Homo sapiens: one gene and its partners. The protein of the gene in region 2 purifies or fractionates together with the protein of the main gene of each other region. This does not show direct contact. Each region holds a gene or a part of one and is shown on either strand. Other genes may lie near its edges.

Region 1 (3,187 bases), on a different chromosome or scaffold from region 2:
TGCCCATTTTTAAGTTGGGCTGTTAGTCTTTTTGCTAAGACTCTCACATCCAGAATATATAAAGAACACTTACACTCCACAACAAAAAGACTAACAACCCAGAATGAGATGCCACTTCACTCCTACTAGGATGACTATAATCAAAACAAAACAAATGTTGGTGAAGATGTAGAGAAATTGAAACCCTATGCTTGCTGGTGGCAATATAAAATGGTTCAGCTGCTGTGGAAAAGTTTGGTGGATTCTCAAACATTTAAACATAGAATTACCATATGACCCAGCAATTCCACTGTGAGGTATATACCCAAAAGAACTGAAAACATATTTAATGTTCACAGCAGCACTATCCACAATAATGAAATGGTGGAAACAACCCAAATGTCCATTAACTGATGAACAGATAGACAAATCGTGGTATATCCATACAACAGCTTATTCTGCCATAAAAAAAGAATGAAGTACCGATACATGCTACAAGTTGAATAAACCTTGAAAACATTATGCCAAGGGAAACAGAGACATAGGTCACATGTTTTATCATTCCATTTATATAAAATGTCCAGAATAAACAGGCAAATCCAAACAGACAGAAAGTAGATTAGTGGTTGCCAGAGGCTGGTGGAAGGGGAGTGGAAAGTGACCACTTACTTAATGGGTACAGGTTTCCTTTTGGGGTGATGAAAATGTTTTGGAAATATATGAGGTTATGGTTGTACAACACTGTGAATGTACTAAATGTGACTACGCTGTACATCTTAAATTGGTTAATTTTTTTTTTTTTTAAGAGACAGGGTCTCACTCTGTCACCTAGGCTCTGGAGTGCAGCAGCACAATCACAGTTCACTTTAACCTTGAACTCTTGGCCTCCAGTGATCCTTTCACTTCTACCTCCCAAAGTACTAGGATTATAGCCATGAGCCACTGTGCCTGGCTAGTTAAAGTGGTTAATTTTATGTTATGTGAATTTTACATCAGTAATAAAAAAGAAGCCGGAAGAAAACCAGACATCAAAGATGTTAGAAAAAGGGATATATTTACAAACCAAAAAGTCTCCAAATTCCCACTGGAAGGAGGTAGCAAGTATGAGCAGGTCTCTTTAGAAGCCCGTCCTCATTCCTATAGAAACCCCAAGTACTAGCCCATGGGGTCAGCCCTTGCCCTATAGCCCATCCTTGTCACAACCCAAGAAGCAATCCCTCCATTGGCCACACCCTCAGTCCTTTTGCCAGTCATCCTGTGCCCAGGCAGGCATTGGTGAAAAGTACTCAAAGCCTGGCCCTTTATAGCGTAGGGCATGTAGGAACATCACAAGGTCTTGGGGCAAGGGATCCTGTCGCACCAGCCGGCACTCTGCACAGAGTGGGTCTGTCTCTTGATTCATGACATCTGTTTCAACTGCCTTCTCTGATGCCAAGGCTATTGTGTCCAACTCCTGAGGGGCTGCCTCAGCTACTTCCTCCATCTTCTGGGCAGCTGCAGCCAACTCTTCCAGGTCGTCCTTGCCCAACTCTGAGGAGGGGGCCGTAGAGTCTGTGAGTCCTGGGGACAGGTCACCCTCACAGAGATCTAGCACATCCAGGCTCTGTTTGGCCTGGTGCTCTGCTACCAGGTCCCGTAGCAACTCCTCGTTTGTCTTGGGAATGTAGCCGCCCCGGCCTCGAGAAGGACCCCAGGCAACTGAGTTGTAGATGGGGTCGTTGAGAATGGGATGGCCCAAGAACTGAAGGTGGACTCGAATCTGGTGTGTGCGGCCTGTGAGTGGCCGGCACCGTACCACACTGGACTGGCCATTGTAGCTTAGCCTCTGGAACACTGTCTCACAGGGCTTGCCCCGGGGATCTACACGGCACACCCCTACTTTGTAAGACACCACTAAGATGGGTTCTTTACAGGTCACTTCCTCAGTGGGGAACTCCCCTTCCACCCGGCACACGTACTCCTTCTCCAGCTACATAGGAGGGAAGAGGGAGAAAGTCAGTACAAAGCCTAAATTCATGGAGTCCAAACTCTTTGTGGAGTGATAAGGACCAGTGTCAGAAAATTCAAACTCCAGCTCTACCATTCGCCAGTTTTGCGATCTTGGGTACATTACTTAACCTCTAAATCCTACTAACTCATCTAGAAAATGTGAAATTAGAAAAGCATTTACCAGCTGGGTGAGGTGGCTCACGCCTGTAATCCCAGCACTTTGGGAAGCTGAGGTGGGTGGATCACCTGAGGTCGAAAGTTCGAGACCAGCCTGACCAACATGAAGAAACCCCGTCTCTACTAAAAAATACAAAATTAGCCAGGCGTGGTGGCGCATGCCAGTCATCCCAGCTACCTGGGAGGCTGAGGCAGGATAATTGCTTGAACCCAGGAGGCGGAGGTTGCAGTGAGCCAGGATCACACCATTGCACTCCAGACTGGGCAACAAGAGCGAAACTCCATCTCAAAAAAAAAAAAAAAAAAAAAGAAAAGAAAAGAAAAGCATTTACCTCATTGGGCTGTGATAAGCATTCAGTAAGTTAGGCTCTAATGTGCTTGATACTAAGCCTGGTATATAGCATGCACTCAATAAATGTATTATGATTCAGATCCAGAATTACAAGTCTCAGGACAACAATCATTACCATTAAACTCCTCTACCCAAGACTTTTCCAACTACATCTAGAATCTTTTCACCAAGCAGGCTCTCCCCATAATCTTAAAAGCCTTGCTCAGCCTGTCAGCACTTTATTTTCTTATGTTAATTTATTTCTTTGAGACGGAGTCTTGTTCTATAGCTCAGGCTGGAACGCAGTGACATGCTCATGGCTCACTGCAGCCTCAACCTCCCATGGCCAAGTGATCCTCCTATCTCAGCCTCCCAAGTAGCTGGGACTACAGGCATGTGCCACCATGCCAGGGTAAGTTTTTTTTTTTTTTTTTGAGACAGAGTCTCACTCTGTCACCCAGGCTGGAGTGCGGTGGCGCGATTCGGCTCACTGCAAGCTCCACCTCTTGGGTTCACACCATTCTCCTGCCTCAGCCTCCCGAGTAGCTGGGACTATAGGTGCCCGCCACCACGCCCAGCTAATTTTTTGTATTTTTTTTTAGTAGAGACGGGGTTTCACCGTGTTAGCCAGGATGACCTCGATCTCCTGACCTCGTGATCTGCCCGCCTCGGCCTCCCAAAGTGTTGGGATTACAGGCGTGAGCCACTGCG
Region 2 (7,036 bases):
TTCAGCACATTTTTAAATTGGGGTGGGGGAGTAGATACTTTTCAGTGTCTTTTTTCACTTGGTCCAATTTTAAGCATCTTTTTAAAAGCCAGTTCATCTAAGGCCCCTTAATGTCACAAAAACGAGAAATGCCCAGTGGCTAATTAAAAACAAGGACGTGGCCAGGCACAGTGGCTCACGCATGTAATCCCAACACTTTGGGAGGCTGAGGCAGGTGGATCACCTGAGGTCAGGAGTTGGAGACCAGCCTGGCCAACATGGTGAAACCCCGTCTCTATTAAAAGTAAAAAAAATCAGCAGGGCATGGTGGCAGGCACCTGTAATCCCAGCTAGTGGGGAGGCTGAGGCAGGAGAATGGCTTGAACCTGGGAGGCAGAGGTTGCAATGAGCCAATATCGTGCCACTGCACTCCAGCCTGGGCGACAGAGGGAGACTCCATCTCAAAAAATAAAATAAATAAAGTGGAAGAGACAATAAACAACTGAATAGGTAAACTAATAACACGCCGGAAAACGAAAGATACTATGAAGAGTAAAGCAGAGTAAGGGGAAAGAGACAAGTGTGTCTGTGTGTGCATATGTACATGAGCGTGCACGCATGTGTGTGTGCACATTGTTTGGGATAGCGTGGTCACAGAAGGCCTCATGGAGAAGGCAACCTTGAGCAGAGACTGACAGGAAGTGAAGGAAAGAGCTACGCCGATATTTGCAAGAATATTCCAGGGAGGAGGAAGAGCCAGTGCAAAGGCCCTGAGGCAGAAGCGGGTTTGGTGTATGTGCAGAACTGCATGGAAGTCAGTGTGGCTGGAGGAGAGGAGAGTGGGAGCCTATGGGGTCAGAGAGGCCACGGAGAGCCTAGCAGGTCATCAGACAGTTTTAAGTTTTGCAAACTGTAAAGGGGGAGCCACTGGAGAGTCTGAGCAGAGAAGAGAAGTCATCTGACTTCCATTCAAAAAGGATCAGTCTGGCTGCTGTGTTGAGAAAATGTGGGTGGGAATGGGGAGAAGAGATGGGAGACTAGAATGATCATCGAGAAGAGAGGGTGATTGCGACACACAGTTGAGGTAGTGACCAAAGGGTAGCAACCACTCCACAAATTCTCAAGGTAGAGCTGACAGGACATCCCCTGTGGAGACGGCCTCACTCTGTCACCCAGGCTGAGCACAGTGCAATCGCAGCTCACTGCAAGCTAGACTTCCCAGGATCAAGCAATCCTCCCATCTCAGCCTCCTGAGTAGCTGGGACTACAGGCATGCACCACCACACCCAGTGGCTAATTTTGGGGTATTTTTCTGTAGAGACGGTGTATTAATCCGTTCTCACACTGCTAACAAAGACATACCTGAGACTGGGTAATTTATAAAGGAAAGAGGTTTAATTGACTCACAGCTCAGCATGGCTGGGGAGGCCTCAGGAAACTTACAATCATGGCAGAAGGGGAAGGAAACACATCCTTCTTCACACGGTGGCAGCAGGGAGAAGTGCCAAGCAAAAGGGGGAAAGGCCCATTATAAAACCATCAGATATCATGAGAACTCACTCAGTATCACAAAAATAGCATGGGGTAACCACCCTCATGATTCAATTACCTCTCAGCAGGTCCCTCCCCCTACCTATGGGGATTATGGGAACTATAATTCAGGATGAGATTTGGGTGGGGACACAGCCAAACCATATCAGACGGGGTTTCACCACGTTGCCCAGGCTGGTCTCAAACTCCTGGGCTCAACCCATCCTCCTGCCTTGGCCTCCCAAAGTGTTCTGATTACAGGCATGAGCCACCATGCCTGGCCTGATTTTTTTTTTTTTTACTATAGATTGCATTAAAATGTTTTTTATCTTCATGGCTGAGGTTTTGGGTGCCCCCTTAAGTTGTGTACCTGAGGTGAGTGCCTCACTCCCCCTTACCCTTGTCCCAGCCCCGTTCTTGGGAAACTGGAGTGCAGGGAGGCCCTGCTTTTTCAGCCACAGCCACAGACCTGTGTTTCTCCCCAGGTCTCCCTGCAGTACAGCTCCAATGGCCAGTGGTACCACACCTGCGGAGGGTCCCTGATAGCCAACAGCTGGGTCCTGACGGCTGCCCACTGCATCAGGTAACTGCCATTCCCTGGGCGCTTGGCCTGCTCACCAGCCGGTGCTCATTTCTGAGCTGGGGGCTCAAATGGCCTGAACCACACTACATGAAGTAACCTTGCAAATAACCACTAGCCTGGCCGAGACACAAGCTGTAGTCAATCAATGGTTCAGTGTGTTGGCCCACCCATGGGTCATTTCATGGCATGGATGGAGTGTCTGTGCCAGGCAGGCACTGAGGGAGGATGAAGAGGAGGGGAAGGCCCAATCTCTGCCCTCTTGGGGAAACTACATGTGGCCTCAGTGTCTGGAATTGGGTTCCCTTGAACAACTTAACTGACTTCTCAAAGCTTCAATACCATCACCTGCAGAAAATGGAGTAACAGAATTTAGTGTGGACTCAGCAATTGATTTGCTAAAGTGCCTGGCACTTATTAAGTGCTCAATGAAAGCTAATTCTGAATTGCAGACAAATTATAAAGGCCCACAAGGTTCTGCAACGTTGTTCACTTATCCTCTTCTTTGTCCGTGACCTCTGCTCATCACAGCTGGAACTCACCGGAGTTTCTGCCGGGTCAGTGTGACTCCCTACCAGGAGTGATCCCTTCTCCCATCCGACTTATAATAAGCTCTAGGAGGTGATGGGGATACTAATAGAGGCCTACAGTCAGGAGTCCTGGCTTCTAGTTCTGATTTCTCACTAACGGTGGGACTCCGGACCAGTTACTCCTCTCTGGGCCTCAGTTTCCCCATCTGAAAATAAAAGGTTGAAAATTTCCTTGAGGGCAAATGACTCCTGTTTTCTCTGTGTTCATCTCATTCCTCCATAATACTATAGAGTTTGTGCTATTACAACATTAATTTTAAATTGTAGTTTATAGTTAGTATAGTAACAATTATTATATGATCATAGTTCTTACATTATATACTTTAGGCCCTATGATAACTAACTGACTGTCCCAGGGGAGGAAAGATCCCCAAGTGCCAACTAGTGGCTCATGAAGCAGCCAGTTACTTGGGTCTATCCCTAGCATTATTCAAAGCCAGGCCTCTGGAGGTGACCCTCTCCCTGGGACCCCTTTCTCCCAGCTCCTCCGGGATCTACCGCGTGATGCTGGGCCAGCATAACCTCTACGTTGCAGAGTCCGGCTCGCTGGCCGTCAGTGTCTCTAAGATTGTGGTGCACAAGGACTGGAACTCCGACCAGGTCTCCAAAGGGTTCGTTTCTATCTGGGTGCACTTGGGGGTGAGGTTGTCAGGGAACAGATGGGGGTCTCACAGAGGCAAAGGTCTCAACCCCACCACACCCCCTCTGCTTTTTCTATAGGGAAGAGAAAGGAGCTCTGGCCTATTAGATGTGGAACCGGCTCCAAAGATGTCTGGGGTGGGGATGTGACCTGGGGAGGGTGAAGCAAAGACTGCCAGAGCGACCTGGGTTTGCTGCCAGTTAAGCCTGCAGGGCCCCTGTCCGCTGAGTGTGTATCTACTTCATGCCAAGTCCTGGGGACACAGAGACAGTGCTGTCGACCCTGTGACTGTCCCTGGAGTAGGACACAATCTCTCCTGCCTTCCCCCTTTCAACAAAGCCCTCCGCATTTTCTTTTTTCTTTTCCTTTTTCTTTTTTTGTGAGATGGAGTCTCGCTCTGTCACCCAGGCTGTAGTGCAGTAGCACAATCTCAGCTCCCTGCAAGCTCCGCCTCCTGGGTTCACACCGTTCTCCTGCCTCAGCCTCCAGAGTAGCTGGGACTACAAGTGCCCACCACCACAGGCCCGGCTAATCTTTTGTATTTTTAGTAGAGACGGAGTTTCACTGTGTTAGCCAGGATGGTCTCGATCTCCTGACCTCATGATCCACTCGCCTCGGCCTCCCAAAGTGCTGGCATTACAGGCTGGCATTACAGGCTGGCATTACAGGCCACCGTGACTGGCCGACCCTCTACATTTTCAAACATGCCCTGTGGGCCCTGCCGGTCAGAGCAACCTGGGGTAACGTACAGGGAAGATGACAAGGTCTCCAAGCCCTCCAAAGCCCCATAGGGCAGGAAAAGTCAACCCTGTTCTCATGCTCCGCCTCCGCACTCACCCAGGAACGACATTGCCCTGCTCAAACTGGCTAACCCCGTCTCCCTCACCGACAAGATCCAGCTGGCCTGCCTCCCTCCTGCCGGCACCATTCTACCCAACAACTACCCCTGCTACGTCACGGGCTGGGGAAGGCTGCAGAGTAAGTGGGAGCCAGGAGCCCCCAGGCCTGGGAGGGAAGGGAGGTGATGTCACCCCTGTCCGGCCAGGGCCTCTCACCTCACATGTTATCCTGGGCATGTGGCTGCCTTGGAGAGACAGGATGGCATAGGCTGATGTCTGCCTGGGTTCAAATGTCAGCTCTCCCACTTAATGACTGTGACACCTTGGACACATTACTAGGTCTCTCCAAGCTGCACTTTTCTCATATGTAAAATGCAAATAATTGGCTGGGCGCGGTGGCTCACGCCTGTAATCCCGGCACTTTGGGAGGCCGAGACGAGCAGATCACTTGAGGTCATGAGTTTGAGAGCAGCCTGGCCAACATGGTGAAACCCCGTCTGTACTAAAAATATAAAAAACTCGCCAGGTGTGGTGTTGTGCGCCTGTAGTCCGAGCTACTTGGGAGCCTGAGGCACAAGAATCATTTCAATCTAGGAGGCGGAGGTTGCAGTGAGCCAAGATTGCGCTGCTGCACTCCAGCCAGGGGGATAGAGCGAGACTCCATCTCCAAAAAAAAAAAAGGCATAATAATACCACCTACATCACAGAGTTGTCAAGAGGATTAAAGGAGATAATCCACAGGAAGCCTGGCATGTGGTAGGTGCTGTGTGTTAGTTGTTGTCACTGTCCCTATGATGGAAAGAAAGTTACAGAGATCATGTGACATCTTCTGTGTGGCCCAAGGCTAGAGTTCAGAACAGCATTTCCTCTGTGACCTGAGGTCTCTGGAGCTCCACAAAGGCCCCTGGAGCCCTCATCAGACCCTCCATGCCCCATAGCAAAAGCTGTCCCCTGTGCCATTTGGTCTTGCTACTGAGAACCCGGCTGAGGGTGGGTCTTCTTTGACATAGACTCCAAGGGTCAGAGATCCAATGACAGTAGCCACCAAGAGGAACAGAGTTCCCGCCCTTCCCTTGTGAAAACACCAGAGGTTTGGAAGATTCTAGGAAGGGATGAGTGATAATGACCTTATGACCGTAATGACATTATTAGTGATGATGACATTATGACATTTTTTCCTAATGACATAAACCCATAAGTATAATGACATGTTTTTCCAGGGGTACATCCACATACGTACCCTCAAATAAATTCCCATTGCCCTCTTGACTGGCTTATCTGTAAACACAAGGACACATCAAATCCTGCGGTGAGTGGTGGTGGAAGAGGCATTTCATGCTTATTAAGATACAAGCACAACCACCTGTTTGTTTCCCCAGCCAACCCTGGGGCAGGTGCATTTCATCTGAGACAGTGAGAGTGGGGAGGCCTCCAAATGCTTGGCTTTTCGGCCCAGCTCTGTCGGTCACGGTGAAACCTTGGGCAAGCCACTTCCGAACCTCAGTTTCCTCATCTGTAAAATGGAAACACTGTTGGTGAAGACTAAAAGAGGTGAAAGGTGGAAATGCATCACACATTGCAAAATGTTACACAAGTGTTAATTACTTATTAATTAGAATGGTCTTAAGCAAAAAGCTTGATTTTTTTTTTTTTTGAGACAGAGTCTTGCTCTGTCGCCCAGGCTGGAGTGCAGTGGCACAATCTCTGCTCACTGCAACCTCTGCCTCCCACATTCAACCGATTCTCCTGCCTCAGCCTCCTGAGCAGCTGGGATTACAGGCATGTGCACCACGCCCAGCTAATTTCTATATTTTACTAGAGACGGGGTTTCACCATGTTGGCCAAGCTGGTCTCGAACTCCTGACCTCAAGTGATCCGCCTGCCTTGGCGTCCTAAACTGCTGGGATTACAGGGTGAGCTACCATGCCTGGCCGACGCTTAACTTCCCTTGGCTTCAATAGCAAGTGAAAAATTATGTTAATCTCATCCTTGCCACTCATAGCTGTGGTAACAGTAATGGAGGTGATGGTGGCTGTGTCATTGGGGGCCATTATGAAAGCCCTCCCTTCACCACACCCAAGGAGGGGGCTCTAACTGCCAGGAGGCTCACTTTCTTATTTCAGATAAGTGACAGAAAGCCATGGAGCTAGCTCAGCAAAAAAAGGGAAATTGTTATAAGGATTTAAAAGTTTCAACCCAAGGGCAGAGATATAGCCAGGCATCAGGAAGAGACTAGAATCAGGGGCTGGAAGCCTGTGAGAAACTCAGGAAACACTCACTGAGAAATTTCTTTCTTTGTGGGTCTACTTCATTCTTCTGCACATAGAAGAAAATGTCAGCCATTGACAACAGCTTCCAAGATTTGCATCCTCTGGAACCGGAATCTCTTAGTCCCCATCTCAAAATCTCAGGGGAGGGAGTTCATTGGCTTAGCTTGAGTTAGGTGTTCACTGCTGAACCAATCACCAGTGGCCAGCACACTAACCAATCAAATGTGAGGACACAGTATAGACAAACATGGCTGTTCCCATGTTGCAATGGATGGAAGATGGTAACAGGGGAAATCCAGTAGGGGTCCACCACTTCCTTTTTCTCAGGAGTCCCTGCGTCCCTAATGGCTTCTCTCTGGTCTCATTCAGCCAACGGGGCTCTCCCTGATGACCTGAAGCAGGGCCAGTTGCTGGTTGTGGACTATGCCACCTGCTCCAGCTCTGGCTGGTGGGGCAGCACCGTGAAGACGAATATGATCTGTGCTGGGGGTGATGGCGTGATATGCACCTGCAACGTGAGTACCAAAAATCAGGGGCCCCGCTCCATGACAAAATGTGGCTGGGGATGGGAAGAGGCTATGGAAAACCATCCCTCCATAGGTCCATCC
Region 3 (7,036 bases), on a different chromosome or scaffold from region 2:
TTTATTTTGTTCTTTGTTATATATATTTTTGAAGGTGGCTGTTTTAGGAAAGATAATGTAATCACAATATTAGAACATAATTTTACTGTAATCTAATTTTGTGTGTGTGTGTGTGTGTGTGTGTGTGTGTGTGTGTGTGTTTTGGATGGAATCTCACTCTGTCGCCCAGGCTGGAGTGCAGTGGCCTGATCTCAGCTTACTGCAGTCTCTGTCTCCTGGGTTCATTTAAGTGATTCTCCAGCCTCAGCCTCCCCAGTAGCTGGGATTACAGGTTCGTGCTACCACACCTGGCTAATTTTTTTGTATTTTTAGTGAGGACGGGATTTTGCCATGTTGGCCAGGCTGGTCTCGAACTCCTGACCTCAAGTGATCCGCCTGCCTTGGCCTCCCAAAGTGCTGGGATTACAGGCGTGAGCTACTGCCCCTGGCCAATTTTTGTATTTTTAGTAGAGATGGGGTTTCACCATGTTGGCCAGGCTGGTCTCGAACTCCTCCTGACCTCAAGTGATTCGCCAGCCTCGGCCTCCCAAAGTGCCAGGATTACAGGCAGGAATGAGCCACTGCCCCCAACCATCAGTCTAATTCTTATTTTTGCTTTTTACCTTTTCATTTTTATGTAGTAGAGGTGATTGTGTATGTTATTTTGTAGTTAGCTTTTTTCCCCTGAACGTTGTATTGTAAATGTAAATTTTTTTTTTTTTTTTTGAGACAGAGTCTCGGTGTTTGCCCAGTCTGAAGTGCAGTGGTACGATCTCAGCTCACTGCAGCCTCTGACTCCTGGGTTCAAGCGATTCTCCCACCTCAGCCTCTTGAGTAGCTGGGGCTACAGGAATGTTCCACCACGCTTGGCTAATTTTTGTATTTTTGGTAGAGACAAGGTTTCACCATGTTGGCCAGTTTGGTCTCGTACTACCGACCTCAGGTGATGCGCCCGCCTCGGCCTCCCAAAGTGCTGGGATTGCAGGCGTGAGCCACTGCGCCCGGCTGTAAGGTTTTTACTTAACCATTCTATTGTTGGGAATTGGGTTTCCACTTTTTTGTTATAGATAGTGGTGCAGTGAACATTTTTAAATAGCTTTTTGCTTCAGTGTAATTATTTCCTTAGAGAAAGTTACCAAGAGTGGTTTTACTAGTTCAGAGGGCTTCAGGATTTTTATGGCTCTTGCTAGCGGTGCTCTATTATTCTTTAGAAGACTTGTATTACTTCCAGTGTCAAGAAGGTTGCTCTTCCATGGAATGGTTTCTTTGTAGTTTGTCAAATATTGTGGGGAATTTTTAAAGGAAAAATTGCATTTTTACTGTCAAGTGCATATATTATTAAGTGCTTTTGTTAGTTACTGGATTATTGATATTTGAGTTTAATTTGGTTCCTCTGAGGATTTAATAAGGTAATATATGTGAAGATGTTTTGAAACCTGTAACCATTATTATTAATGAGGGTACTTGGTTTATCTGTCGTGCTGATAGTACTGAGTAAAGTGCAGGAATGAAATTCCTGAGGAACTGTTCTAAAGCTTTGTTGTTGTTGTTAACCTTTCTTTTTCATCTGAAAGTGTTTTTTATTAGCTGCTAGCCTATGACCAAGTTATTTTTGGTAACTTTTTTGTAATTTCATGGCACTATTGGGAATTTTCGCTGGTTGACTCTTCTTCTTCTACATTCCCTTCCCCATTAAAAATAAAAATATGGATTTACAATTGTTACTCTATTCCTAAACCTAAATAATATGACATTAGAATTGCTTGGGATACAGGATTCAGTCTGAATAAAATATTTTTCTTTTAGTGATTTTCAGCTTAGTATTTTTACTGCTTCTTTCTCTTGAGGCATTGCAACTTAAAAATTGTGCTGTTTAGCCAGGCGCCTGTAATCCCAGCTACTTGGGAGGCTGAGGCAGGAGCATCACTTGAGCCCAGGAGGCGGAGGTTGCAGTCAGCTGAGATTGTGCCACTGCACTCCAGCCTGGGAGACAGAGTGAGACTCTATCTCAAAAAAAAAAAAAATGTGCTGTGATTTAATGTAGTTGTTCATCATGCTTCCATTTAAATTTCAGTGAGACTGTTCATCTTTTGCAGTTAAATATCTTGTAGAAGGGCCTAAAATATCTACGTTGAATACAGCTTTATTGAAGCATCTATGTACATGGGGTTTTTGGGATGAATCAGTGAATAAAGCAAACATATTGTCCTTTTGGAGTTTACATTCTAATGTGACTAGGCAGACAATGAGACATTAAATTACCAGCCTATGTATAATAGTGTATAAGAGCTATGGAATTAGAAGAAAGCAGATTAAAGGTATAGGGAGTGTGGGGAGGGGAATGAGTTACAATTTTAAATGGATTGGGGGAACTTAATTGAGGAGCTAACATTTGAGCAAAGATTTGAAGGTTGGGTATTTAGCCGTTTGCTTTTTATCTAGGTTAATTAGTCATGTGGCTTCATTAGTAATTTATAAGGTTTAAATGGCATCATCCTTTGTTATTCTTTTATGTGCACATTGATACTAACCATCTCTGAAGTTAGACCAAAAAAGTTAATTGACATTGAGGGTCATTAGAGGTAAATTGTAGATGGCTATTACTAACCAAAGAGACATGTTTTGTTTTTCTTTTGGGCTTACGTATTTTACCTAATTAGTTTAGTTTTTGTTTCAAGTATGTGGAGAAAATAAACTTTTTAAGTTTGGGCCAAAACTTGCTTTGGTTTTCTTTTTCTTTTTCTTTTTTTTTTTTTAAGAGAAAAATGTAAGCCTGTAGTTGCTTAAAGATTCCACATTCTGAAACAGTGAAAACATGGGATCAGTCATGGTGTTCCTTTTTTTGGTTAAATGTAAACTTGTATTTTCAGTGTTACTCTAATTAGCAATGGTTTATACTTCTACATAAGGGATGTTAACTCATATTGTAGCTATTTAATAGCCATATATTTTGACTTAAAGGAGGATCTCAAGGCCAGGCGCGGTGGCTCATACCTGTAATCCCAGCACTTTAGGAGGCTGAGGCGGGTGGATCACCTGGGGTCAGGAGTTTGAGACTAGTCTGGCCAACATGGTGAAACCCCCATCTCTACTAAAAATACAAAAATTAGCCGGGCATGGTGGTGGGCGCCTGTAATCCCAGCTTCTTGGGAGGCTGAGGGAAGAGAATTGCTTGATCCCGGAGGTTGCAATGAGTGCGGAGGTTGCAGTGAGCTGAGATCATGCCATTACACTCCAGCCTGGGCAACAGAGCGAGACTCTGTCTCAAAACAAACAAACAAACAAAAAAAGGAGGATCTCATTTTTTTGTCCTAAATAGCTACAGCCGTGTTAGAACTGTCACCTTAGCAAAGTATTGTTTTTTTACTTTGAAACGAATTTTAAGGTTTTAGAAGATTGTTCTCTAGAATTACAATTTTCTGTTTTGACTAGTGATAGTATTTTGATGTTGTGTAAATAGTTGAGCATGAACAAAACCCTATTTTTTTTTTTAGCTATTTCAAGTGATTGTGACAACTTCAACGGAGATGTAAACAGTTTATTAACAGTCACACCTATTATCTTTTTTTTTTTTTTTTTTTTTTGAGACGGAGTCTTGCTCTGTCGCCCAGGCTGGAGTGCAGTGGCACGATCTCTGCTTACTGCAACCTTTGCCTCCCGGGTTCAAGTGATTCTCCTGCCTCAGCCTCCTGAGTAGCTGGGTCTACATGCGCACACCACCACGCCTGGCTAATTTTTGTATTTTTAGTAGAGACAGGGTTTCACCATGTTGGCTAGAATGGTCTCAAACTCCTGACCTCAGGTGATCCACCTGCCTCAGCCTCCCAAAGTTCTGGGATTACAGGCATGAGCCACCGTGCTTGGCCGCTGCCGTATCTTTTTAAATGAAAGTACTTGTGTTTTTTTTGTTTTTTTCCAAAGGATATCTGGGTCATCTATGATGTTACTGTTACCATCTAAGGGTTTTTTTGTTTGTTTTTGAGACAGAGTCTCTGTCGCCCAGGCTGGAGTGCAGTGGCGTGATCTTGGCTCACTGCAACCTCCGCCTCCCAGGTTCAAGCAATTCTCCTGCCTTAGCCCTCCCGAATAGCTGGGATTACAGGCACCCGCCACCATGCCTGGCTAAGTTTTGCATTTTTAGTAGATATGGAGTTTCACCATGTTGGCCAGGCTGCTCTTGAACTCCTGACCTCAGGTGATTCGCTTGCCTCGGCCTCCCAAAGTGCTGGGATTACAGGCGTGAGCCACCCCCGCCCAGCCTCATGAGCTAAGGTGTTTTTTTTTTTTTTGAGACAGTTTTGCTCTTTCCCAGGCTGGAGTGCAGTGGTGCAATCTCAGCTCACTGCAACCTCTGTTTCCCGGGTTCAAGCGATTCTCCTGCCTCAGCCTTCTGAGTAGCTGAGATTACAGGTGCCTGCTACCCCACTCAGCTAATTTTTGTATTTTTAGCAGAGACAGGGTTTCACCATGTTGGTTAGGCTCATCTCGAACTCCTGACCTTAAGCGATCCACCTGCCTTGGCCTCCCAAAGTGCTGGGATTATAGGCATGAGCCACCGTGCGCAGCCTACCCTGTCTCTTAAAAAACAGTAACAACAACAACAACAACAAAAAATCCTAAATCTTAAAAATGGAAGGCAAAAACTCTAAGCTTTGAGAGATTAGGGGACTTGCCCAAAGCAATATTTGTAGGATTTTATTACACCTCTCCCTTTATTTATTTTTTTAGAGTCAAGGTCTCCCTCTGTCACCCAGGCTGGAGTGCAGCCTCAATCTATGGGGCCAAGCATTTCTCCTGTCTTAGCCTCCTGAGTAGCTGGAACTACAGGTGTACACCAGCTGGCTAACATTTAAATTTTTTGTAGAGACAGGGTCCTGCCATGTTGCCCAGATTGGTCTCAAACTCCTGGGCTCAAGTGATCCTCCTGCCTCAGCTTCCCAAAGTGCTGAGATTACAGGTGTGAGCCACTGCACCGAGCCCCCTCCCTTTATTTTTATTTTTAAATTTTAAGTTCTGGGGCCCCTCCCTTGAAATAAATAGAAACGTAATATATACACAAGATCATGCTGTGTATTTTAAGGCAATGGTCCTCAACCTTTTTAACACTAGGGACCGGTTTTGTGGAAGATGGTTTTTCCATAGGGGCAGGGGATGATTTTGAGATGAAACTGTTCCACCGGCCGGGCACGGTGGCTCACGCCTGTAATCCCAGCACTTTGGGAGGCCGAGGCGGGCAGATCACGAGGTCAGGAGATCGAGACCATCCTGGCTAACATGGTGAAACCCCCCTCTACTAAAAATACAAAAAAATTAGCTGGGCGCGGTGGAGGGCGCCTGTAGTCACAGCTACTCCGGAGGCCGAGGCAAGAGAATGGCATGAAACCCGGGAGGCAGAGCTTGCAGTGAGCTGAGATAGCACCACTGTACTTCAGCCTGGGGGACAAAGTGAGACTCCGTCTAAAAAAAAAAAAATTGTTCCACCTCAGATCATTATGCATTTGTTAGATTCTCATAAAGAGCATACAACCTACATCTCTTGCTATATGCAGTTCCCAGTAGGGTTTGTGCTTCTATAAGAACCTAATGCTGCACCTGATCTAACAGGTGGGGCTCAGGTGCTAATGCTCACACAGCTCCTGTTGTGCAGTCTGGTTCCTAACAGGCCTGTTTTTTTTTTTTTAATTAGATGGAGTCTCGCTCTGTCACCAGGCTGGAGTGCAGTGGCACGATCTCAGCTCACTGCAACCTCTGCCTCCCGGGTTCAAGCGATTCTCCTGCCTTAGCCTCCCATGTAGTTGGTACTACAGGCGCACACTGTGATGCCCAGCTAATTTTTGTATTTTTAGTAGAGACGGGGTTTCACCATGTTGGCCAGGATGGTGTCGATCTCCTGACCTTGTGATCCGCCCAACAGCCTCCCAAAGTGCTGGAATTACAGGCGTGAGCTGCTGCGTCCGGCCCCCTAACAGGCTTGTTTTATGGAATACAGTCACGGACAGTACTTGCCCTTCAGGATATCTTTTTGTAACCTTGATTTTGGCTTGCTAAAATAGGAGGTCTATTTTCTTTTCTTTGTTTTTAATGTATGTGGTTCTGTACTTACGTGGTGTGAAATCTACATAAATGTTAAATCCTTGGTTATTTATTTATTTTGAGACAGAGTCTCACTCTGTCACCCAGTCTGGAAAGCAGTGGCATAATCTCGGCTCACTGTAACCTCCACTTCCCAGGTTCCAGTGATTCTCCTGCCTCAGCCTCCTGAGTAGCTGGGATTACAGGCATGCACCACTACACCTGGCAAATTTTTGTATTTTTTTTTAGTAGAGATGGGGTTTCACCATGTTGGCCAGGCTCGTCTTGAACTCCTGACCTTAGGTGATCTGCCTGTCTTGGCCTCCCAAAGTTTTGGGATTACAGCATGAGCCACTGCGCCTCGCCTTATTTTTTTGAGACAGGTTCTAGCTCTGTCACCCAGGCGGGAGTGCAGTGGTGCCATCATGGCTCATTGCAACCTCGAGTTCTCAGGCCCAAGTGATCCTCCTATCTCAGCCTCCTGAGTAGCTGGGACCACAGGCATGCGCCACTATGCCCAGCAAAATTTTTGTTTCACTCTGTTGCCTAGGGTGGGGTGCAGTGGCAGGATATCGGCTCAGTGCAACCTCTGCCTCTTGCGTTCAAATGATTCTCATGCCTCAGCCTCCCGAGTAGCTGGGATTATAGGCATGCGCCACTACACCTGGCTAATTTTTGTATTATTGGTAGAGATGGGGTTTTATCATGTTGGCCAGGCTGGTCTCGAACTCCCGACCTCAGGTGATCCATATACCTTGGCCTCCTGAAGTGCTGGAATTACAGGCATAAGCCACTGCGCCTAGCTTTTTTGTTTGTTTTTATTTTGTAGGGACAGAGATTTTACCTGTTGCCCAGGATGGCCTTGAATTCCTGACCTCAAACAATTTGCCCTCCTTGGCCTCCCAAGGTGCTGGGATTACAGGTGTGAGCCACTATGCCTGGCTGGTTTTTTAAATTATTATTATTGTTTGTGTGTGTGTGTTGC
Region 4 (7,046 bases), on a different chromosome or scaffold from region 2:
GGGACTGACCTGTTCCTCCTCATGTCCCCAGGCCCCACACAGAGCAGCGCTACAGAAATCCATGAGCTGATGGGCAGTCTTAGCAGATCAAAGACAAAGGGCTGGGCAGAGAACCCCCGGGGCCACCTTTCCTGTTTCCTGTGCTGTGGTCGCTCTGCACACACTCCTGGCAGGGACACGCTGTATGCCCGACTCACACCCAGTGGTCCTCCTCCCCAGCTGCGGCCCCCAGCACAGAGCCTGTCGCACTGGCACCTGCCACAGTGACTGATCGAACGTGTCCGTGTGGCTGCGGTCTGGGGTCCCAAGCCTTGGAGGGGAAGCACACACAGGGCTCTCCAAACTGAGGGTTGGGACCCATGTACCCCGGGAAATCGGCTTAGTGGATTGCAATTGAAAAAAAAAAAAGGGTCAAGCCAGTGGCCCACACCTGCAATCTCAGCACTCTGGGAGGCCCGGGAGGGAGGATCGCTTGAGCCTGGGAGTTAATGAGACACCATCTCTACAAAGAATTAAAAAACGAACTGAGCGTGGTGGCATGTGCCTGTGGTCCCAGCTGTTCGTGAGGCTGAGGCAGGAGGATCGTTTGAGCCCAAGAGTTTGAGGCTGCAGTGAGCCAAGAGTGTGCCATGGGTGAGATCCCACCTCTGGAGAAAAAAAGAGAAATGAATCGGAAAAGTAGAGCCCCCTTTTATGTAATAAGGGCGGCTACTGCAACTTACTTTAGCTGTACCTGCACACCTGAGTGTGTACACTCTATCAGAGTACAAAACGTATTTCTTACTGCAGGTTGTGATGAAAAAATTGGAAAGCCACTAGGCTGCAGCGTCCTGGCTTTCCTCCGTGCCAGGACCCTCTTTACTCTGTAGTTCTCCTCTCCAGGCAAGCTGGCCTACCTTTCTCAGAACAAAAACACGAACGGGGGCTAACGTCTGTGCAGCGATGTTTACACAGATGATCTCATTTACCCTGTGAGGGTTGAGGGGCGTCTGGAGGACTGTGTGATCTTGGGTAAACGGCTCAACCTCTCTGGGCTTCAGTTCCTTCCTAGGTGAAGCTGGCTGTGTTGAGGATGCAGTGAGGCTTTGTGCACAGCGAGTGTGAGATGAAAGCGATCATCAGCTCCACTGAACAGACAGAGGAACCAAGTGACTGACGAGCCCTTCGGCAACAGTGAGGGTGCTGGGAGGGTTCAATTCAAGCTGCTGCACAGAGGCTTCCAGATACGCCCTGCAGCCCCCAGCACCACCGCACCACAACAGCTAACACGCACTCAGCACGCACCGCACACCGCGCACCGTTCTAAGTCCTTCGAGTTCATTTCCTCATTTTATCTTCACAAGAGTCCGAAGGGCTGCGGACTGTTCTTCATTCTGAGATGAAGACACTGAGGCTCACGCTTAACCCCCTGCTCCAGGTCACTTAGCTCTTAGTGGTGAAACCAAGGGTGTGGCCCTACAGCCCGAATCCCTGTGCCCTGGGAAAGCCGGTTCTATGGCCAGACCTGCCCCATCCTTACCTCCTAGCCCCATCCTCGATGGTCTCTCCTTCTTGCACTTTGCCCCCAAAGCCATTCCACCGGCCGGCCCCGAAGCCTCGCTTTTTCATGCCCAGGAGAACTCGCTGAGGCTGCAGGACCAGCACCAGGGTATAGAGCCTGGAGGCGCCCATGGTCCCTGGGTTCTGAAAGGAAGGTGAGAGGGCAGAGTCAGCCATGACGTGCGTGGAGGAAGCACGTGCCAGGGGCCAGGAGGAAGGGGACGTGCTCTGGGAGGCAGTGGGGGGCGGGGGGGTATGCTGTAACTCCCCAGCCCTGCCACGTGTGGCTTCCCTTGTGGCAGGTGGAAAACTGCCATTGAACCAGTGATTTTCTGGGGTAGAAACAGAACCCAGTGGTCAGCAGGGCTGATCAAGCAGAGCAGAGGCCGGCGCTACCTTCCTTCTCCACAAGTCAGTACTCAGGTGCAGAGGACAACATCACCTTTCCAGAGCGTGCTCTTGCTCCTGCGTCTACCCCCAGGAACCCCCTGCTTATAGGCACACAGTGAGGAACAACAGTCCCCGTGCCTGATTGGCACCAAAATAACCACGCAGTTTATCCTGTGGTCCTCAGGTCAGGCCTTTGGATTAACAGGAACTTCTTTCAGTCTAGTGGGACCTGGCCTCTCTGTAGCAGGCTTCCAGATTCCCAGGAAATGTGTGGCTGTAGACACAGGTCCACCCAGCCAGGCCCGGCTAGTCCTCCCTCCTGTGATAGGAGTTTATACCCCACCCACTCTGCTCCTGCTGTGGCTACTGTGGGACCTGGCACCCAGGGGGGCCACTGGAAGTCACAAGGGTCCTTCCTGCTCCCATAGGTGTGCAGGTCCAGGTCCAGAGGACTCTGAGGGCGATGCCTCCGCCAGGTCCCTGCTGAAAAAAGGACCCTGGAGAAATGCTGGAGGGCCAGGACCAACTTTCCTTTATTTATTTTGAGACAAGATCCTGCTCTGTTGCCCAGGCTGGAGGAGAGTGGCGTGATCGCGGTTCACTGTAACCTCCGCCTCCCTGGCTGAAGCCATCCTCCTGCCTCAGCATCCCACATAGCTGGGACCACAGGCATGAGCCGCCACACCCAGCTAATTTCTGTATTTTTAGTAGAGATGGGGTTTTGTCACGTTGCCCAGGCTGGTCACGAACTCCTGAGCTCAAGCGATCCACCCACCTCAGCCTCCCAAAGTGCTGAGATTACAGGCGTGAGCCACTGCGCCCAGCCAGGACCAACTTTTCTGGGGTCCACACCTGGACAAGACACAGGGTTCAGGACCAGTGATCCTTCTTGGAAGTTGTGGTGTCTGAGAAAAGGGACCAGATGATAAGGAAGGGGGCAGGGAAGTGCTGGGTAGAGGAGGGCGTGGTCTCTGGCCAGGGCTCCACACCCAGGCCTGTGCCCAGGGACCTGGGTGAGGACAGGCATTTCTGTTTTTTTGCCCAAATGTTGCATTTCCCGAGCCCGCCACGTCCCCGTCCTGTGCCTATAAAAAAACCCCAGTGGTTTTTTATAGTGGGCAGAGACACAAGCCGCTGGACGTCAAGAGGACGTGGAAAGCACACCAACAGGCACCAGCAGGCCATCAACTGATGGAACCATGAGTTTGGCAGGGGCGGTCAGAGGAGAGCCCAGGCTGCTCAGCAGCCCGACTCCAGGGGAAAATCACCTTCCCACTCCAACTGCCTTCTGGCTCCCCCATCTGCTGAGGGCTAATTCCACTCATAAAACCTTGCACTCACTCTCCAAGCCGCCGTGTGATCTGATTGCTCCAGTACATCAAGGCAAGAAACCTAGGGATACAGAAAGCCCTCTGTCCTTGCGATAAGGCAGGGAGTCTAACAGCTGACTAACACAAGCCACCTACAAGGCTAAACTGAAAGAGCACCCTCTAACACATGCCTGCTGGGGCTTCAGGAGCTGCAAACATTCACCCCTAGACACTGCCGTGGGGTGGGAGCCCCTCAGCCTGCCTGTCTGTATGTTCCCCTAGAGGCTTGAGAAGCGGGGCACTGAAGAAGTGAGCCACATCCTCATCGCACGCCCTTCGAGGAGGACAAGGGAACCTTTCCCATTTCACTGAGACTGGGTCCTGGTGGCGGAGGCAGGTCAGACAGGGTAAATGGGTTTGTGGCTTAGTTTCACACCAGGCCCGTGTACTTTGTCCCGACACTGATCTGTTTCTGCCAGAAGCCACGGTTTCCAAAGTAAATTTTTGTGATTTACTCCTGGTCTCCCCCAAGCCTCCGCCCCGCTCTCCTTGTCTCTCTCCCAAACCCCCGGCCCCGCTCTCCTCGTCTCCCTCGAGCCCCCGACCCTGCTCTTCTGGTCTCCTTCGAGCTCCCGGCCCCGCTCTCCCCCAAGCCCATGGCTCAGCTCCCCTAGTCTCCTGCCGCCCGCTGGCCCGGCTCCCCTCCCTGGTCACCACGACTCCTGGAATCCCCGCGCGCGCTTTTCGTACCTGCACCGCCGCTTCCGGGGGCGTGGCCTCTGACCGGAAGTGAGGCCAGGCACTTCCGGCGGCGCGCTGCAGGCGCGGGGAACACCAATGGCGGGGTGAGCTGGGCGCTGCTGCTGCGCGTGCAGACAGCGGGAGTGGTTGGGGGTCCGCCCGGTCGCCTTCCTCGGTCCTGGCCTCGGGGCTGGGTGCCGAGCGCTGGGCACCGTCCCCGCACTCAGCGAGCGCGACAGGGGCGAGGCCAGGATTCCGGGTCGCAGTTCCCCGGGAGGAGGGCGCCCTCAGGTCTCCAGGGGCAGGGCCGGCGGGGCCGTGGGGAGGCCGGGGCCGGCGGCGGAGTCCAGGTGGGGGGCGCAGCGCCGGGGCCCAGATCCAAGGCGCCGGGGGCGAGCCCGGGGCGGGATTTCGCTTCTGGGCCGGGTAGCTCCATTGCCCGCGCTTCCTGGGCTGTCGAGTGGGCCCTGGCCCCCGGGACCGGCTTGTGCCATTTTCCCGGGAGACCCCTTAAGCGAGGGGAAGACAGCGACTCACGGTCAGCAGTCAGTGCCTCCTGGCTTGTCAGCACGCTTTGGTGTTGCAGAAGCTAGAAGCTTTGGCCTTGGAGCCATGAGGGTGGTAACTTTTATTTATTTATTTAAATCAGAAAGATGGACATAGAGACCGGGCTTGGTGGCCCACACCTGTCATCCCAGCACTTTGGAAGTCTGAGGCAGGAGGATCGTTTGAGCCTAGGAGTTCGAGACCAGCCTAGGCAATGTAGTGAGATGCCATCTCTAAAAAAGGTTTTTAAGAATTAAAAAAAAAAAAAAAATTAGCCCAGGCATGGTGGTGCACACCTGTAGTCCCAGCTACTCAGGAGGCTGAGGTGGGAGGTTCACTTGAGACCCAGAGGTTATGGCAGCAATCAGCTGTGATTGTGCCACTGCAACTCCAGCCTGGATGATAGCAAAACAAAAATGGCCGGGTGAGGTGGTTCACGCCTGTAATCCCAGCACTTTGGGAGGCCAAGGTGGGCTGATCGCCAGAGGTCAGGAGTTCGAGACCAGCTCGGCCAACATGGTGAAATCCCATCTCTACTGAAAATAGAAAAATTAGCCGGAAGTGGTGGCACACACCTGTAGTCTCAGCTACTCAGGAGGCTGAGGTGGGAGGTTCACTTGAGCCCCAGAGGCTGTGGCTGCAGTCAGCTGTGATCATGCCACTGCACTCCAGCCTGGGTAATAGTAAAACCCTGTCTCTAAAAAAACAAAAAGAAGAAAGAAATGCCTGGGTGCAGTGGCTTACACCTGTAATCCCAGCACTTTGGGAGGCCAAGGCGGGCAGATCAGCGGAGGTCAGGAGTTTGAGACCAGCCTGGCCAACATGGTGGAACCCATCTATACTGAAAATACAAACATTAGCCGGACATGGTAGCAGGTGTGCCTGTAATCCCAGCTACTTGGGAGGCTGGGGCAGGAGAATTGCTTGAACCCGGGAGTCGGAGGCTGCAGTGAGCTGTCACTGCACTCCAGCCTGGGCGCCAGAGTGAGACTCCGTCTTAAAAAAAGAAAAAGAGGACATAGAACTTCCTTGGTGAGGTTGTTGTCAGAGTTAAACAAGGGGAGGTGTGTATAGCTTCCACCTGCTTAGCTATTGTGGGCTGTGAATAAATTGTTACATTTATTGTAACAATTGTCTAGAGAATCTTGGAAATTGTCCTTCAACGATTGACACAGGTTTAGTTCAATTTTATTTAAGACATGTAGGTGAGAGGATTGTTTGAGCCCAGGAGTTCGAATCTGCGTTGAACCGTGACCTCACCACTGCACTCCAGCCTGGGCTATAGAGCGAGACCCTGTCTCGAAAAAAAGAAGAAAAAAAGAAATGTGACAGGCCAGACCCTCTGTACTAGCTGTCAAAGCCCTGGAACTAGGTCACTAAGGCAAGGATCTGTCCTTATGAGGTTTTCTTGCAGCCTGTCAGAGCCCAATGAACATTTTTGCCAGATGAGAAAATAATATTACTTTAATTAATTAATTGATGTATTTAGTTATTGTTTGAGACAGAGTCTCGCTCTGTCGCCCAGGCTGGAGTGCAGTGGCGCAATCTCGGCTCACTGCAACCTCTGCCTCCTGGGTTCAGGCGATTCTCCTGCTTCAGCCTCCCGAGTAGCTGGGTTTATAGGCATCTGCCACCACGCCAGGCTAATTTTTGCATTTTAGTAGAGACGGGGTTTCATCATGTTGGCCACGGTTGGCCAGGCTGGTCTCGAAATCCTGACCTCAGGGGATCCACCTGTCTTGGCCTCCAAAAGTGCTGGAATTACAGGTGTCTCCGAATACCCCCATATTCTGAGGTACCAAGGGTTAGGACATCAACACATTAATTTTGCGGGGACACAGTTTGGCCTGTGATGCCTGCTTTCCATCTGTGTAGCCTTATCAGTTCACCTCCCCTCCTGGGCCTTGGTGCCCCATCTCTAGAAATGAATGAGTTGATCCGAGGGCCCTCCCAGCTCATGACCTGCCGTTCTGTGTGATGCCAACCTGCCTGCTCCTCTTCTCTCCCACCAGGTACTTGAAGCTGGTGTGTGTTTCCTTTCAGCGTCAAGGGTTCCACACTGTTGGGAGTCGCTGCAAGAATCGGACAGGCGCTGAGCACCTGTGGCTGACCCGACATCTCAGGGACCCATTTGTGAAGGCTGCGAAGGTGGAGAGTTACCGGTGTCGAAGCGCCTTCAAGCTCCTGGAGGTGAACGAGAGGCACCAGATTCTGCGGCCCGGCCTTCGGGTGTTAGACTGTGGGGCAGCTCCTGGGGCCTGGAGTCAGGTGGCGGTGCAGAAGGTCAACGCCGCAGGCACAGGTGGGCCTCTGCACTGCTGTTGGCACCTTCTGGCTCCCCTGAGGCTGAGTGGGCATGGGCAAGCTGCCTTTGCCAGTGGATGCGGGATGGTGGAGCCCTTTTTTGAAGGCGTGTGCTTCCGAGTGGGTGGTTTAGCAATGGTGATGATAAAAATAGGATGCTGCCATTTTCAAAATGAAAGACAAGGTAGAAAGGTGCAGTGAACATGGAAATCACCT

The links.
Region 1: the proteins of CELA2B (region 2) and RPUSD2 purify together in Homo sapiens (affinity purification with mass spectrometry; 3 studies listed by BioGRID and IntAct, with this or other methods). This does not show direct contact.
Region 3: the proteins of CELA2B (region 2) and ATXN2 purify together in Homo sapiens (affinity purification with mass spectrometry; 3 studies listed by BioGRID and IntAct, with this or other methods). This does not show direct contact.
Region 4: the proteins of CELA2B (region 2) and MRM2 purify together in Homo sapiens (affinity purification with mass spectrometry; 3 studies listed by BioGRID and IntAct, with this or other methods). This does not show direct contact.

The regions. Positions count from the first base shown.
Region 1 is NC_000015.10:40,572,288-40,575,474, reverse strand, and holds the end of RPUSD2 (pseudouridylate synthase RPUSD2), read right to left. Parts: intron 1,949-3,187; coding exon 1,214-1,948; 3' UTR 526-1,213; downstream 1-525. UniProt on the Homo sapiens protein: Pseudouridine synthase that catalyzes pseudouridylation of mRNAs.
Region 2 is NC_000001.11:15,479,104-15,486,139, forward strand, and holds part of CELA2B (chymotrypsin-like elastase family member 2B preproprotein), read left to right. Parts: intron 1-1,994; coding exon 1,995-2,092; intron 2,093-3,161; coding exon 3,162-3,290; intron 3,291-4,160; coding exon 4,161-4,297; intron 4,298-6,797; coding exon 6,798-6,943; intron 6,944-7,036. UniProt on the Homo sapiens protein: Acts upon elastin.
Region 3 is NC_000012.12:111,589,310-111,596,345, reverse strand, and holds part of ATXN2 (ataxin-2), read left to right. Parts: intron 1-7,036. UniProt on the Homo sapiens protein: Involved in EGFR trafficking, acting as negative regulator of endocytic EGFR internalization at the plasma membrane.
Region 4 is NC_000007.14:2,239,200-2,246,245, reverse strand, and holds the start of MRM2 (rRNA methyltransferase 2, mitochondrial), read left to right. Parts: upstream 1-4,040; 5' UTR 4,041-4,076; coding exon 4,077-4,084; intron 4,085-6,538; coding exon 6,539-6,828; intron 6,829-7,046. Other genes in the region: NUDT1 (oxidized purine nucleoside triphosphate hydrolase), read right to left, coding at 1,520-1,683, 3,198-3,254. UniProt on the Homo sapiens protein: S-adenosyl-L-methionine-dependent 2'-O-ribose methyltransferase that catalyzes the formation of 2'-O-methyluridine at position 1369 (Um1369) in the 16S mitochondrial large subunit ribosomal RNA (mtLSU rRNA), a universally conserved modification in the peptidyl transferase domain of the mtLSU rRNA.